2 linked regions of the Homo sapiens genome follow. The main gene of each other region encodes a partner of the protein of the gene in region 2 in a complex. Each region holds a gene or a part of one and is shown on either strand. Other genes may lie near its edges.

The links.
Region 1: ODAD4 (region 2) and CLXN share a complex: the UniProt entries of both Homo sapiens proteins name them as parts of the outer dynein arm-docking complex.

The regions. Positions count from the first base shown.
Region 1 is NC_000008.11:48,731,663-48,740,238, reverse strand, and holds the start of CLXN (calaxin), read left to right. Parts: upstream 1-4,970; 5' UTR 4,971-5,087; coding exon 5,088-5,145; intron 5,146-5,554; exon of another isoform or gene 5,555-5,704; intron 5,705-6,979; exon of another isoform or gene 6,980-7,102; intron 7,103-8,576. UniProt on the Homo sapiens protein: Component of the outer dynein arm-docking complex (ODA-DC) that mediates outer dynein arms (ODA) binding onto the doublet microtubule. Seems to regulate the assembly of both ODAs and their axonemal docking complex onto ciliary microtubules.
Region 2 is NC_000017.11:41,961,452-41,967,694, forward strand, and holds the end of ODAD4 (outer dynein arm-docking complex subunit 4), read left to right. Parts: coding exon 1-15; intron 16-3,541; coding exon 3,542-4,032; 3' UTR 4,033-5,052; downstream 5,053-6,243. Other genes in the region: CNP (2',3'-cyclic-nucleotide 3'-phosphodiesterase), read left to right, coding at 5,434-5,436. UniProt on the Homo sapiens protein: Component of the outer dynein arm-docking complex (ODA-DC) that mediates outer dynein arms (ODA) binding onto the doublet microtubule. Plays an essential role for the assembly of ODA-DC and for the docking of ODA in ciliary axoneme.

The sequences.
Region 1 (8,576 bases), on a different chromosome or scaffold from region 2:
AACCTCATAGTCTAACAGGGCTGCTAGGGCTCCAGCCTTTAAAAACAGGGACTGGTCAGAGAAGAGGCATTCAAGCCTGGCAGATGCCACATATTGGAAAACCATGGAAACCATGCTACTGGGTCTGGACTCCATCTTGCTGGCACTGGGAAGGCCTTTCAATGTTAAGCAGGAGGAAGAAATGGTCGGATCACTTTGGCAATCCAGCAGGCAGTTTTGAGGAGCACAAGATGGAAGACAGCAGGCAAATTCAGGAAACAGGCAGGAGCATAAAGGATGAACAAAGCAAGAGGTGCAGCACTGGAGGGGGGAGCAGCACTTGCACTTTCTAAGAAGTGTAGAGAAGAATGGATAGAGCTCATAAGATCATGGAAAGTTGATGACAGTCCAGATGATTTTGACTTTCTTCTGGCTATGAGTGAGTAGATTTGAGGAAATGGGTAGTTTTTTCTGGAGAATATCTACAGGACAAGCAATATTTTCAGGGGAGTAGCAGGTTCAGGGAAGAAAGGTGGAGAGTTGGCTTTGTGCAAAGATGGATCTGGTAAGGTAAACATTCACAGTTGAAATGAGTTTTGTTGGATATGAGTGAAAGGGGTTAGAGAGTGCAGGCTAATAAACAGAGTCTACTAAAGGGGTAACATGATTCAAGGTAGGCGATCTTGGGTGCTTCCTTTTCATTTAGGGAGCAAGAACTATGGAGTTGGGGGAAGTGGTTTAAACAATGGTGGCAAGTATCAGAAGTGATACCAGTTATTTTCTGGTTGACATTGGCTAAGAGGACCAGGCATTGCCTGGTGGGGTCTCTGGGTAGGTCAGGTCCTGTTCTGTGCTTAGTGATGCTCATGAATTCCCTGGTTAGGGCTCAAATGTTGCAAGATGCCCTGGGCTTGGTAAGAAAAAGGTGTGGGTATCTTCTGTCTCTGAGGCAGCTTTGCAGGTAGTACAGTTGCCATGACTCTGGCTACAGTGGCGCATGACCCAGTGCTGAGGGGATCAAGCCCAGCACATTCAGCAGGATTTCTTGGTCAGCTCTGCCAGGTCTCAAAGAGCCAGATTCTTTACCGAAAACTTCAGACCTGCTGACATTATGGCTATCATAATAATTAACTGTCACAGGCCACATCTTAATTTACAACTTTATAAATTACATGTTGAGATACAAGAATCCTATCCTTAGTAAACCTTAGGCATTTGTCTTACTGGCTGGTCACTTGATTACAGTAAAAAAAAAAAAAAAAAAAAAAGTCTAGAAATACGTCAACACCAGTGAATATCAAGTGTGAATTTTGGAGAAAGGTCAGTTTAAATGAAAGCTCTTCTATATTGCCCAGCTCCCTTTAAAGGCTCCATTGTGGTTACTGTACCAGGGACTCAGCCCCAGGGTGCTGCAGGGAAACCTGGGGTTCATTCCTGCTGGAGTGGTTCTCCTACCACTTTCCATCAATACAGACCACACAACATGGACCATGTGGTCAAATTTCAGAGGTACAGACAGATGATAAACAAACAAATGCAGAGATACAGCGAGTGAAATAGACTTAAATATATGGAGAGAGAGAGAGAGATCATGTGATTTAGTCTGGTGGGAAGGAGAGGTTAGAAAAAAACAATTGTTTCACACAGTAGCAAGTGCTAAAAAAATAGTATCAAGGAAGAGAATGGCTGGGTGGAGAAGGGTTCACTTCACTTCACGTAGGGTGTCAGAAAGAGCTCTTTGAAGAGTTGCCACTGGGAGTGGTTGGGGTGAAAAATATGCAGAAGTTGTGCATAAGACAGTGTTCTGTGGGTCTGAATACTGAGACTCTAGCTTGTCACCACAACCCTACAGCAAAGGGGAGAGTGACAAGTGGTAGAGATTTGGAGATTCGACCACCCAAACAACTGGTCACACATATAACTCTTATTTTTGTTATCGCTGTCTCCACAAAATAAAATTAGTAAAGTTGAATTTCTATTATGCAGGTAACTAACCTATTTCCCTTTTATTCAAGCAATTTTATAATAGATTTGTGATATACTTGGAGATCAATTCTATGATGTCATTTCCTCAACAGTTTCCAAAGGCCTTCATCATAAAAGGTCCACATTAAGGAAAACAATTTCATCAAGTCAAGGTCCAAGCTGTTTATCATGGCAACAATCCAGTGAATGCTGAGTCAAAGGGAAGATTGTTTTGCACACAAAACTAAAGGAAACATAGCATTAATAGTCACTTTAATGTACTTCTGTGTTTACAAAGTTATTCATCTTGAGGTTGCTTGGATTTTTGGAAAGTTCTATGATCATTTCATGCACAGTAAAATTTATGTCCAATACGAATTAAACACAATCCTTTATTATTCCATTATTGATTGATTTAATATGAAGTAGCCTCTTAGGCTTAATTGCCTTACTCTGAGAAAGCTCTTGGGGGAAAGCAGTCCTGTGTCTACTCAGCATAAGCAACTAAAACTACAAATAGAAACTTCAACTTGCTTTGAAATGTTATTCACTGACTCAATCAGGCCTGCAACTTGTTTCTAAAGTCTAAAAATATTAAGTTCCAAAACTTCACAAGAATGTAATGAAAGCTCTGAAGTTTACCCGTATGTTGACAAAACATACTCCAAATAAACATTGTGCTTTCCCTGAAAAAGATGATAAGACCTTATTGTAAGGTCAACTCTGCAAATCACTCTCTTAGATAAGTGAGATTCACAAAACAATGCATTTGCATAGATAGATAGAAAGATAGATAGATAGATGATAGATAGATAGATAGATAGATAGATAGATAGATAGATAGATTGGTTGATTTTTTTGGCTAAAAGAACTGCATGGAAGAAAGAACTGGAGGATAAAAGAAGTGGAAGAGGAGGAGGTGACTTACAAAGTTTGCTCAACAGGTTAAGGAGTTTTGGCCCGGCATATTTTAATTTCAACAATCTGTGATATTGCCCCTACATCTTTTTATTATTTTTTTAACTTTAAGGGAACATGGCTGATGGGCTCTAGGCCTTAAACTCGTGAAGGAATAACTAATTAGCTTACCTATAGCAAGCACCCGGTGTATGCGATCTCCCCAGGCCACCAGAAATAACCACCAATGTGCTCACCAACAGCGCAGGCCTGCTCCCCAACACAGGCCTAGTACATCAGGTGGGGAGCCCACAGCGTCTCTTAGTAATTACTGACAACCACTCTTTCGGTTCCTTGTCTCTTGAAGTGAGCAGTGCAGCAATCTCTAGGAATTAAGTATTTGCTACAGCTCTGTGATCCAACAGAAATCAATAAGGTGTCACAGGTAAGTATAATTCAAATATGTCCAGTCTTTCCCTTTTGTTCTCTATGGTCTCAGGAATTTCACTCTTCTAGACAAGGGGATATGTAGAAACACTATTTAAAAATACTACTGTTACAAACTCATAATCACCATCAATTCATATCGGGTAACTGTTGTTAGGACATTTGCTTTAGGATAACACAGTCCATGCCTTTACCAAGCACCCTTTGCTCTAGTTTCAAACAGCATCCCAATCCTTCATTCCACAAACAAATGAAACAGTAAAGAAAAACCAGAGGCCTCGACATTGGAATTATTTCATTTGGGATTATTACTCATGGTTAGTAGAATTTTTCTGCCTTCAGTCTAAAAATGCCAGTATGTGTACAATAACATAGTTTGTCATTTTCCCCTCTGAAGTTAAACGAGCAGGCACTCTGGAGAATACTGTAGATTTGGTGATCCTGGCTGAGCCACCCCTTTTTATTGCTGCCTTAGCTGAAAGAGGATATCCCCTCTGTGATCAGGAAAAGCAGAAAGTCCTCCCACCCTGAAGATGTAAGGAATATCCTTTGTCTGCCGGCACAGAACTTGTCTTTCAAATAAGTAAAGGACCAAGGTTGCTGAGATATTTTCCGGAAAAGCAAGATTGGGCTGTACCCCACACCCAAGTGGTGTTGTCAGCCCGTTTTCATTGGGGGGAATGCCTATTTAAGCAGTATAAAAATTCCTCGTGGCTTTCCTCAGATTCCACAGACAACCTCCATCTTTTGGAAGTGAGATGAGGGCAGTGGGAAAAGAAAAAAACTACAGTCACAAGCCACATAGCGCCATTTAAGTCAACATCAGACAACATTAGGACAGTGGTCCCATAAGATGTAACACTGTACTGGAACACTGCACCTTCCCCAGAGTGCTTAGCACTCTGTTTTAGCTGCCTGCAGCATTCCGCGCTGTGACCTGCTGTGCAGGGGTGCAGCCCAGAAGCAATGGGTTGTACCATACAGCCTGGCGTGCAGTAGGCAAGGCCATCTAGGTTTGTGTCGGTGCACCGTGATGTGCACACAGTGATGAAATCTCCTAGTGACCTCGGAACGCGTCCCGCTCCTTAGGCAACCCGTGGCTGTATTCCAATTTCCCCTTGCTCTCAGAAACACAACTAAAAGCTCGAAGACCTCAGGTGACAGACTGCCTCCTGTTACCTCACCAAGACTGAAAACCTAAGCAGTGGCTCCGCCCAAAGAGCAAGCTTCTAGCCCTCTGACGGGAGGCCCGGCAAGATCGTCCTCTGGACAGCACCTTGCTATTTTGTGACGCTGCTCCAGCCCCCAAGATGTCCAAGATCTTGGGCCTTCCCTTGAGGCGTGACGCTCACGACCCGAAACACCTCTCATACAGCGTGCACACCACATTTCAGATTTTAATGATTTACACTGCAATCAAGCAAAGAGGCTGCGAACTCAAAAGCCAGCAACAACTGAACATTTAAACTCCAACGTCAACAGTCAGAATACAGCCCTCAAGGCGGCCAGCTGGGACCCTGCCGGCGGCACCGCGCACCGAGAACCCAGCGCGAGCAGTCGCTGAGCCGATGGGCGGGGCCCAGCTGTAGCTTTGGCTACGTCGCGGGCAGCCTGGGAGCCAATCCGCGGCGGGCTGAGCCGTTGCCTTGGCTACACCGTCTGTTAGGGCCGCGCACGAGATCAGTAACTGAGACCTCACCGCGTTGACCCAGCACCAGGGCTCGCGGGGGTCCCGCGAGGGTCTCGGTAGCCGCGCGCCCAGAGACCCCCGCCGCGGCCCGATTCTCTGAGCGCCAGACATGAACCGCAAGAAACTGCAGAAGCTGACGGACACCTTAACCAAAAATTGCAAGCATTGTAAGTAAGAATGTAGTGCTGGACAGGCCGAGGCTCCTGGACCGAGCCTGGGTCCCACCCCGTGCTAAGGTCCGCTGTTGTGCCTGCTTCCCGCCTGCTGGGACTCTGTGGGCTACCTACCGCCCCTCCACCCCGGCCCCTTAAGCAGAAGTCAGAGAGGGAATCCCGGGGTGCCAGCTCCTTGCGTTTGATCTTAGGAACCCAGGCCTCCGCCTCTGGTGCTACCTACACTCCCACACATGCATTTACTTGCTTCTCCAACCCTCTTCTTTTACCTGATAGAAACATGTGATGTTAGCCTCAATGAGGTGTAAAATAAATGCTAAAACCAACTGGTCTCAAGAAAAGTAGCACCACCAAGGTAGACCGTGCACTCACCCTGCTTTATAGCTCGCACATACACCCGCAGGTCCAAGTTCTGGAAGCTTACCAAGAGACCCATAGGAGAAAACGGTGCTCAACTTCTCAACATCTTTCGGAGAGATGAGTTGTGTCATCTCATCTGTGCCTCAGAACAATATTTGTTTGGAAACCAGAGTTCAGCACAACTAAACACGTGGTAAAGAATGGGTTCCCAACTTTAGACTCCCACTTTCCAGTGGCCCCTGGTGTTGAAAGATAAAGGAGACTTTGCAGGTGACAAGATGAGCCCTATTTGAAGGCACCTGCTCTAATCTCGCATTTGAAAGGGTGGTCCTAGAATTTCATAGGAAACTTTGAGTTTATATTCAGACTGAAAAACATAATTGCACTTTAGCAAGGAAGCCGTGGGTATGGTTTAGATGAGGAAGATAATTTCCTGTCGAGCAAACTTAGAAGTTGTGTGTGCTAATTGCAAAACTACTGGCCACTTGAAGAAACAGAAGCAACAATCCCCCAAATAACCGAGTCGCTCAAAAAAGAAGGAATAAACATGTTGATGTAGTTTTAGAGATTGTAAGATCTAGTGCATTCTAATTATCATTAGTATCTGATTTAATACCTGGTAAGAAATGCTCTCTTAGTGGATGGTGATATAAATGAATATTATGGTGTGTGTACGCATCTTAAAATGTTTAGGAAAAAAATCCTGTAATTTAAGATATTATTATGACTACTATACTCTGATGAGGGTTTTGTTCTGTTATTGTTTTTCTTAAAACACTTTCATTTCTGGGAGAATAGGTATTCTTCTAGTAAACATCTAGTAAACATTTTTGATAAATATTCAAAAACAATGCAATAGCTGCTATACACAATACTGATTTTGTCCCTTTCCGTAAGTTTGAATTTGATTTAGTCTCTGTTCGGTAAGTTTGAATGCATTGCAGACAATCATTCTGTGAACAATCAAAAGGTGAGTGTATATTTTTAAAGGTAAGTAAAAATATGGCAGGAAAAAGTCTGCTCTTGATTTTTTTGTTTACTAAAAAATTTTCAATGAGTCTTACAAACTTAGATGATTATTAGTTAAAGTCTATAGAAATAGTTATACGTCATGGACATTATAATAATTTTAAATTTTCTTTAACGGAAGAACTTTCCCCTAAAGTTAAATTTTGTTTTAGTTGCAAGACAATAAAGCTATCAAGATTCAATGGATAAATTTTGTAGAATCAAAGAAGAGTGAAAGATCTTAAGAGAACATCTAGTTCATGCACTGTTCTACAGATATGTTCTGCAGGACACATTCACAGCATTCCAAGAAGATGAAAACCTATTCTTGAATTTTCTTGTTTCATTTAGTATTGTATTCTAGAATTTAAGAAATGTTTAGCAATAAAAGTTTTCTTATGGCTAACCTTTGATCCTTTGGGTAATAAATTAAACTAGTTTTTAAAAATTTTTATTTCAGCTGAGATGGAAAAATGGCTAACCAACATCCCCTCTGCTACCATTTTATGTACATGAACAGAGTACATCATTCTTCATGCAGGCTTTTCTTCCGCAACAACTAACAGCTCTTGCTTTTTAGGAGGTTTGTGTGTGTGTGTGTATGTGGTTACATATAACATGAAATTTACTATTTTAACCATTTTAAGTGCTTAATTTCATGGCATTAAGTACATTCACACTGTTCTGCTTGCAACACCACCATCCACCTCCGTAACTTGTTCATTGTTCCCAGTGGAAACTCTACCCATTAAATGTTAACTCACCATTCCCTCCTCATCCTAGTCCCTGGCAACTATCATTCTACTTTGTCTCTATAAATCTGACTAAGTACCTTATATAAGAGGAATCATACAATATGTGTCCTTTTGTGTCTGGCTTATTTGACTAAGTGCAATATCCATAAATGTTCATCTATGTGTCAGAATTTTCTTCCTTTTTAAGGCTGAATGATATTTCATTGTATGAATACACCACATTTTGTCTATCCATTCCTCCATTGATGGACTCTTGCATCTGTCTTTTGACTGTTGTGAATGATGACACTATGAACATTGTTGTACAGGTTCCTGCTTTCAGTTCTTCTGAGTATGTAAATAGAAGTAGAATTCCTGGATCACGCAATAATTGTGTTTAATTTTTATGAGGAGCTATCATACTGTTTTCCACAGTGACTAACAGCTGTTTTTGAAATCATAACCATTATATTGTTTCCTACTATTTATTTGCTGAATCTTTTTTCCCAGACTTTTTAGTGTTTCTCTTTAAATGTGGTTTTCCAAACCAGAAATCCCACAAATGCCTGTACTGACCTCTAGGATGAGGTGTGATTTTTCCATTCCTAGATGCTGTCTTCTGTTATACACACACAGGTTTTGTCCTTGTTTGTTAAAATGCTCAATCACAGTTTTGACTGGTTTCAAAATAAATTTTCCCCAACTTCCGCCCATACTTGGTATTTGAGCTTTTATATTATCAAGACCAGGCAATAACCCTTCCACCTACATTCTCAAATGGGGATTGGAACACAAATAATTAACTCGGTATTTATAACCATGGTCCTTTATACAATAATGTGTATGAGCAAGTATCTGTTTGTGTGTATATCCTTTAAATAAAAATTTCCTTCCTCCAAACTATTACTGAATAGTTGCATGTTAATTTTTACGTAATCCTCAAGAAGAGCCATATTGGGTGCTAAAATATGCTTTAAAGCTTTTTTATTGGAAAACTGGTGACTCTAGTTTCCAAAATCTGGCTTATGAATTAATGAAGGCTAAACTGAAATGAAAATTGTTACCTAATTCTCATGAATCTGACATCTATTTCCAGGGAAAAGAAGTTGTAAATCTCGTAAATGCCATGGTAAAAATACTGAGAAAAAGTTACCATTCTTTAGTCTTACCATTCTTATTTTGAGACGTATTTCTACTAGCCTTGTAGAGTTTAGAATCCGACACCACCATCATTATTCTAGTAACTTGGCTAATACTATCGTATTTTTTTCCCTAAACATGGGAATTCCTGTTTGGAGGGTATGCTGCTTTTTTTATTTCTAT
Region 2 (6,243 bases):
AAAAAAGCGAGGGAGGTGAGTTCCTGAAACTCTGAAAAGGCAACTTCAGCATTCTCCCTCTGCTTTCTTTTCCTCTAGTCCGAGACACATGCGACAGCAGCTCCCCAATCTGGGGGCTTGGCACTGCCCATCGTGCATTCTAATTTCAGTGCCACCAGCAGCCCTAGCCTATCTCTGGGGCAGTAGAGGGTGAGGATTCAGCCCACCATGGGCTGGACTGTCTGGCCCCAGAGCGCACTCATTTCTCTCTTCAATTGATTCATCAAGTATATGGTGAGCACTTGTCATGTACCTGGAAGGTGTTAGATTCTGGGGAGAGAGGCCCATCCCTGCCCTGGAGGAGCCCATGGCCCTTTGGGCAAGGCTGACCAGTGGAGTTGTCAGCTGCTGGGATCCTGCACACAGGTGCTACACCGAGGTGGAGGTGTGCTGCCATGAGGGTGCATGCAACGGGGCGTGGGCTCCTCTGGGGAGGCAGAGGAGGCTTCGACGAGGAAAAATCTTCTACCTCCAACTCCAAAAGATGCCCAGGAGTTTTCCAGGAGAGAAGTGGGAGAAGAAAGGCATTTTTCCAGCAGGGAACAGCAGGGCCAGAGGCACAGAGACAGAATAACAGTAGCTACACTTTGGGGGCTCTTACTGTGTGCTAGGCACTGGGTTAAGCACCAGACAGGAGTGATCTTGTTGGGTCTTTACCCCACTAGGAGGTGTAGGTGCTGTGGGGGGAAAGGGAGGCTGAGTGAGGTGAGTGCTCTGCCAGAGTCATGTAGCTAGGGAGGGGTGACTCGGGGCCCCACTCTCCCCACCTGCGGCGCTGCTCTCGGGCCAGCAGTGTGATGGGCAGGTGCAGAGGGGCATAAGGTGCAGAGGCTGCCTGACAGCTGTGCCTTACCACATTCTTTCTCACAAGGTCTCCAGGGAGTAAACAGGCCTTTGGCCCCCTGCCTTTGGGCTCTCCTTTCCTGCAGGGAGGGAGTGAGGGAAGGAGAAGCAGAAGATGGCTGAGCAGCCCTACCCCACTGGAGAGGGGCCTAGAGGAACAGGGGTGTTAAGCGCAGTAGCCGACCCCCATTCATGCTTCCCGCAGGCCAGGCATTCTTTCAAAGACTGTGTGCACGGACTCATCCTATCTGTATCTGTTCAGGAACACTATGAAGGAAGTGTTATTAGCTTGACTTTATGGAGGACATGGAGGCAGAGGGGTTAGAGGCTACAGTGGTTTTCAGTCTTGGGCAGTCTGCTCTAGAACCCACGCGTCGGCCCGTGCCACACTGTTTCTAGTGACACAGACAGCCTTTTCCTGCCCCAGTCTGTGGAGCTCTCACTCCAGCCAGACTGCAGTGAACAGAGCTGGGGCTGGAGGTCCGGGAGGACAGAGCCCAATGCAGATTCTTGGCTGCAGCCCTCCAGGCTGCAAGGCTGAAATCCTTTCTGGTCCAGGCAGGGCAGCGGGAGGTTTCTGGGCACCTGAGCAGCCAGATGACAGCCCTTTATTATCCAGCACCTGCTCTGTGGTGGCTGGACCCCCTCAGAGGGGCTCTGTCTCCGCCCCCACATGCCCTTTGAGCTGCTCTGAGAAGCCACAGGAGCAACAGCTGTGGAGAGAGACTCTGCGGGGAAGCAGCCAACACCCCAGTCTCCCTACCCTGGCCTGCGTCCTTGTGCCTGGAGAACTGCCGGGCACGTCCCTCTCAGAACAGCAGGTGGCAGCATTGCATCTGTTTTCACCACCAAAGGGCTGTGACCCCCTGAGACCTGAGACCCTCTGCAGATACCTCAGTAACTAGTGGTTTCCAGGAGGAGAATGTAAGGGAGACGCAGAAGGGGATGTAACTTTTCTCCATAACTGATAAAAAAAAAAATTTAGGAGCAAGGATCCCTTTGCTTGTAAAATAACTCTTCAGCTGAACTTTTTGTTAGCAGCGTATATCTTTATAGGAAACCTATCTTTTTCCTTATGTTTTTTCTATATTTTCATAGGAAACCTCCCAACAAATAATGAATGTGCTTCCCAGGGACAAAGAGAAAGTGTCAGAATGAAGATGCTGGAGAAAATCCTTCTGTCATTTTCCAGCACCTATGCTATTTCTTGCAGGGAAAAGAGGTGTTCTGGGGTCAGACTGTCCTGGGTTCAAATTCTGTCTCACTTGCACACTTGCAGTGTGACCATTGTGTGATTTCTTTTCTTTCTTTTTTTTTTTTTTTGAAACGGAGTCTTGTTCTGTCATCCAGGCTGGAATGCAGTGGTGCAATCTCAGCTCACTGCAACCTCCATCTCAGCCTCCCAAAGTGCTGGGATTACAGGCATGAGCCACTGTGCCTTTTTTTTTTTGAAATGGAGTCTCCCCTCTGTTACCCAGTCTGGAGTGCAGTGGCGCGATCTCAGCTCACTGCAACCTCCATCTCAGCCTCCCAAAGTGCTGGGATTACAGGCATGAGCCACTGTGCCTTTTTTTTTTTTTGAAATGGAGTCTCCCCTCTGTTACCCAGTCTGGAGTGCAGTGGCGCGATCTCGGCTCACTACAACCTCCGCCTCCTAGGTTCAAGTGATTCTCCTGCCTCAGCCTCCTGAGTAGCTGGGACTACAGTCTTGTGCCACCACTCCCGGTTAATTTTTTTTTTTTTTGAGATGGAGTTTTGCTCTTGTTGCCCAGGCTGGAGTACAATGGCACAATCTTGGCTCACTGCAACCTCCGCCTCCTGGGTTCAAGCGATTCTCCTGCCTCAGCCTCCCAAGTAGCTGGGATTACAGGCGCCTGCCACCATGCCCAGCTTATTTTTGTATTTTTAGTAGAGACGGGGTTTCACCTTGTTGGCCAGGCTGGTCTCAAACTCCTGACCTCAGGTGATCCACCTGCCTCGGCCTCCCAAAGTGCTGGGATTACAGGCGTGAGCCATGCCGCCCGGCCGTGTGATTTCTTTTCTATCGATCTCAGGTCCCTTGACTGCAAACTCAAATCAACGGCAGTGCGCATTTTCATGATGTCTGGATGGGATAAGCTATACAGCCCTCACGTGATGCACAGGACGGAGCTGGGCTCAGTCAATGATGGTTCCCTTTCTCTGCTTTTGGAAAGGTGTGCTGTCAACACCAATTTAAAGAGCTGGCAAAAACAGTCATTCTCAGGGCCTTTCTCTCATCGGCCTCTCAAAAGCACAGGCCTCCACAGAGATGAACAGTTTCTTTCTTTTTTTTCTTCTTTCTTTTTTGGAGACGGGTCTTGCTCTGTCACCCAGGCTGCAGTGCAGTGGCTGGATTTTGGCTCATCACAGCCCCAACCTCCTGGGCTCAAGCGATTCTTCTGCCTCAGCCTCCGGGTAGCTGGGACTACAGGCGCCAACCACCACGCCTGGCTAATTTTTGTATTTTTAGTACAGACAGGGTCTCACTGTGTCGCCCAGGCTGGTCTGGAACTCCTGGCCTCAAGGGATCTGCCTGCCTCAGCCTCCCAAAGTGCTGAGATTACAGGCGTGAGCCACCGCACCCGGCCTGACATGAACAAACTTTTATCTTTCTTCCCGCTTTTCTCTTATTTTTCAGAAGCTTCACTGTATGAAGATAGAATAATAACAAGAGAGAAGGACATGAGGAGAGTGAGAGATGAGCCCGAGAAGGTGGTGAAGCAGTGGGACCATAGTGAGGATGAGAAAGAGACAGATGAGGACGATGAGGCTTTTGGGGAAGCTCTGCAGAGCCCAGCAAGCGGAAAGCAGAGTGTGGAAGCAGGAAAAGCCAGAAGCGATTTGGGAGCAGTTGCCAAGGGCCTGTCAGGAGAATTAGGCACAAGATCAGGAGAAACAGGCAGGAAGCTACTAGAAGCTGGCAGAAGAGAGTCAAGAGAAATTTATAGGAGGCCTTCGGGAGAATTAGAGCAAAGACTCTCAGGAGAATTCAGCAGACAGGAACCAGAAGAACTAAAGAAACTTTCAGAAGTGGGCAGAAGAGAGCCAGAAGAACTGGGAAAAACACAATTTGGAGAAATAGGAGAAACGAAAAAAACAGGAAATGAGATGGAAAAGGAATATGAATGAAGCCATCGGTAGAGATGAGGATCAGGAAGCTGGTGTTCAGAGGGATCATGGGATTTTATTAAACTGGATTTTCAAGCGATTTGTCTGTTATAGGAAAAATGAGGGTTTTACTTCTGCTGCTTTCCATCACTATTTTGCCATTAAATAGGTGTCTTTCACTCTTGCAAACCCTGAGTCTGTCACTTTGCCTCTTCACCCCTGCCCATTCTTGGAAGAGCATCGTGGAAGAAATGAGAAAGGTGCCAAGAAGAAAGGGTTTCAGGAGGGTGAAGATACGGGCGCTACAGGGAACAAGAAGTCACAGGGAGGAGAGGGGAAGGCCTGGGAGGAGAGGTGCTTCCCACACACCGGTGACTGACTGAGTCCCTCCAGTGCGCAGGACAGCGGGGAGGCTTTATGGATGGAACAGTGGTGGGGCGGCCCCAGCTGTCACAGGTAGGAGAATGCCGCAAGCCAGAACCAAGCGAATGCTGGGAGTGAGGCCAAAGATAGGGGAGTGGCCTGGGAGTCGGGAGGGCAGACAGACTCCGCCTCTGACACCTCTGGGTGGCATAATCAGGTAAATCAGGCTCTCCAAGCTGGCTTCTCCTCTGAACAATGGGATACCTGCCTCAGGGGTTGCTGCGAGGACTGAGTGCTTAGCACAGCACTTGGACAGGAAACTCAAAAATCCAACGGAGCTCTCAGTGGTTTCACAGAGGAGGTGGCAGCTGAGGATCTGGCCTCAGAGGATGTTAGGATTTCACTCCGTTACTCATCTGTCCCTTTGGCCATTGCCATCCTGGTCTGTCTCCACAGCTCCTAGAAGGAAAGGTCGGGGCTGAGACTGACTTTCGGCTGGCACAGGGCCTGGACGAATGAGGCCAGTGAGGCATTTCAGATGCAGAGTTTACCGGAATGCCAGCAAATTGCATGATAATATTTTAATCCAATGTGGTAAAAAAAAAAGTTTTTAATTAATGCAAAAGTCCATGATGAATAAAATATCAAAAATTAAAGACAGGATCCGACTTTGCACGACCCTGCCTCACTCACTTCCTGCTAATCCACGGGACCGGGGAGGGTGACTGAGTTACCCCTCAACACGCAGAAAAAGCTAGTGGCCGCTCAGCTCGCAGGCGCAGTGGGTGGGTGCGCGTGGGGAGCAGGCGCGCGCAGGGGGCGGGACCGGGCCGAGGTTCCCGCGCGCGGCGAGAGTTTCGGGTTTTGGTTCGCAGCGCCTGCGCGCAGAGGAGACGGCCCGCCCCCAGCCCGCCCGGGTGCCCGCTCCGCCCCCCGGGCTATGTAAAGCGGCCGGGCTCGGGTCGTGCCACCGCTGGACTCCCGTGTCCCTCCGCGCAGGCGGGCGGCCCCGGAGCGCTGGTGCCGGCAGAGGCGGCGACGGTGGCGCCCCTCCTCATCATGGTGAGAGGCCGGGCGGGGCCGGGCACGGGGTAGCACCAGGGCGGGAAACGAGTGTCGGGGCCCCTCGGGAGGAAGCGTCTTGCAAACGAGGACCCGGGGCTCCGGGTTCGACTTCCAGTTTTCTTGGTACTCAGGGCGGCCCTGAGGTCTGGGAGAAGCGGAGGGGTTTTGGGGTGCCGGAGAGGCCGCTGTAAAGGGAAACGGTGGTGTTTCTCAGGAGGGAACTCGGGACCGCAGAAGCTGCTGCGCCTCTGGGAGCCTGGGTGGGCCTGGGCCGGGAGCCCGGGAGCTGCTCCCGACCCCACGCAGGCCCGCGCTGGGGCAGCCGCTTCGGCGCCCCCTCCCCGGGCCCAGTCTCATCACGCGGAACCGCTGCCCCGCGCCCGGGTGCGGGCGGGAGGTGGAGCCAGTTCAGAGGAGGGGACCCTTTACGGTAAAAGCTGCCGTCCCTTGTGGCTTCTAGAAGATAGGAAAACAAGTGGCTCCGAGAGGCGCTTCTGACACACAGCACAGCGGCGGGTAGAGCTGGATCCTAATTGCAGGTGCCCTGTGCTGCCCTGTTCTGGACAGGCACAAAGACCACGACTTTGTGGGGGCCGGGAGAGGGTAGAGGAGGAGGTGGCAGGCTTGGTGAAAGAGGGCCTTTGTCCAGTGCTCTCCTGCCCTGCCCCCCACCAGCCCTTCTGTGGGACCATTGTACCCGCATGCCAGACAAGAGAGTATTATCTGTTGCGGCCATTGTTGGGGGAAGGGAGGCAGTCTTGGGGTAACCCTTCTCCACTCCCCCCCTTCTCTGTGCACTCAGCC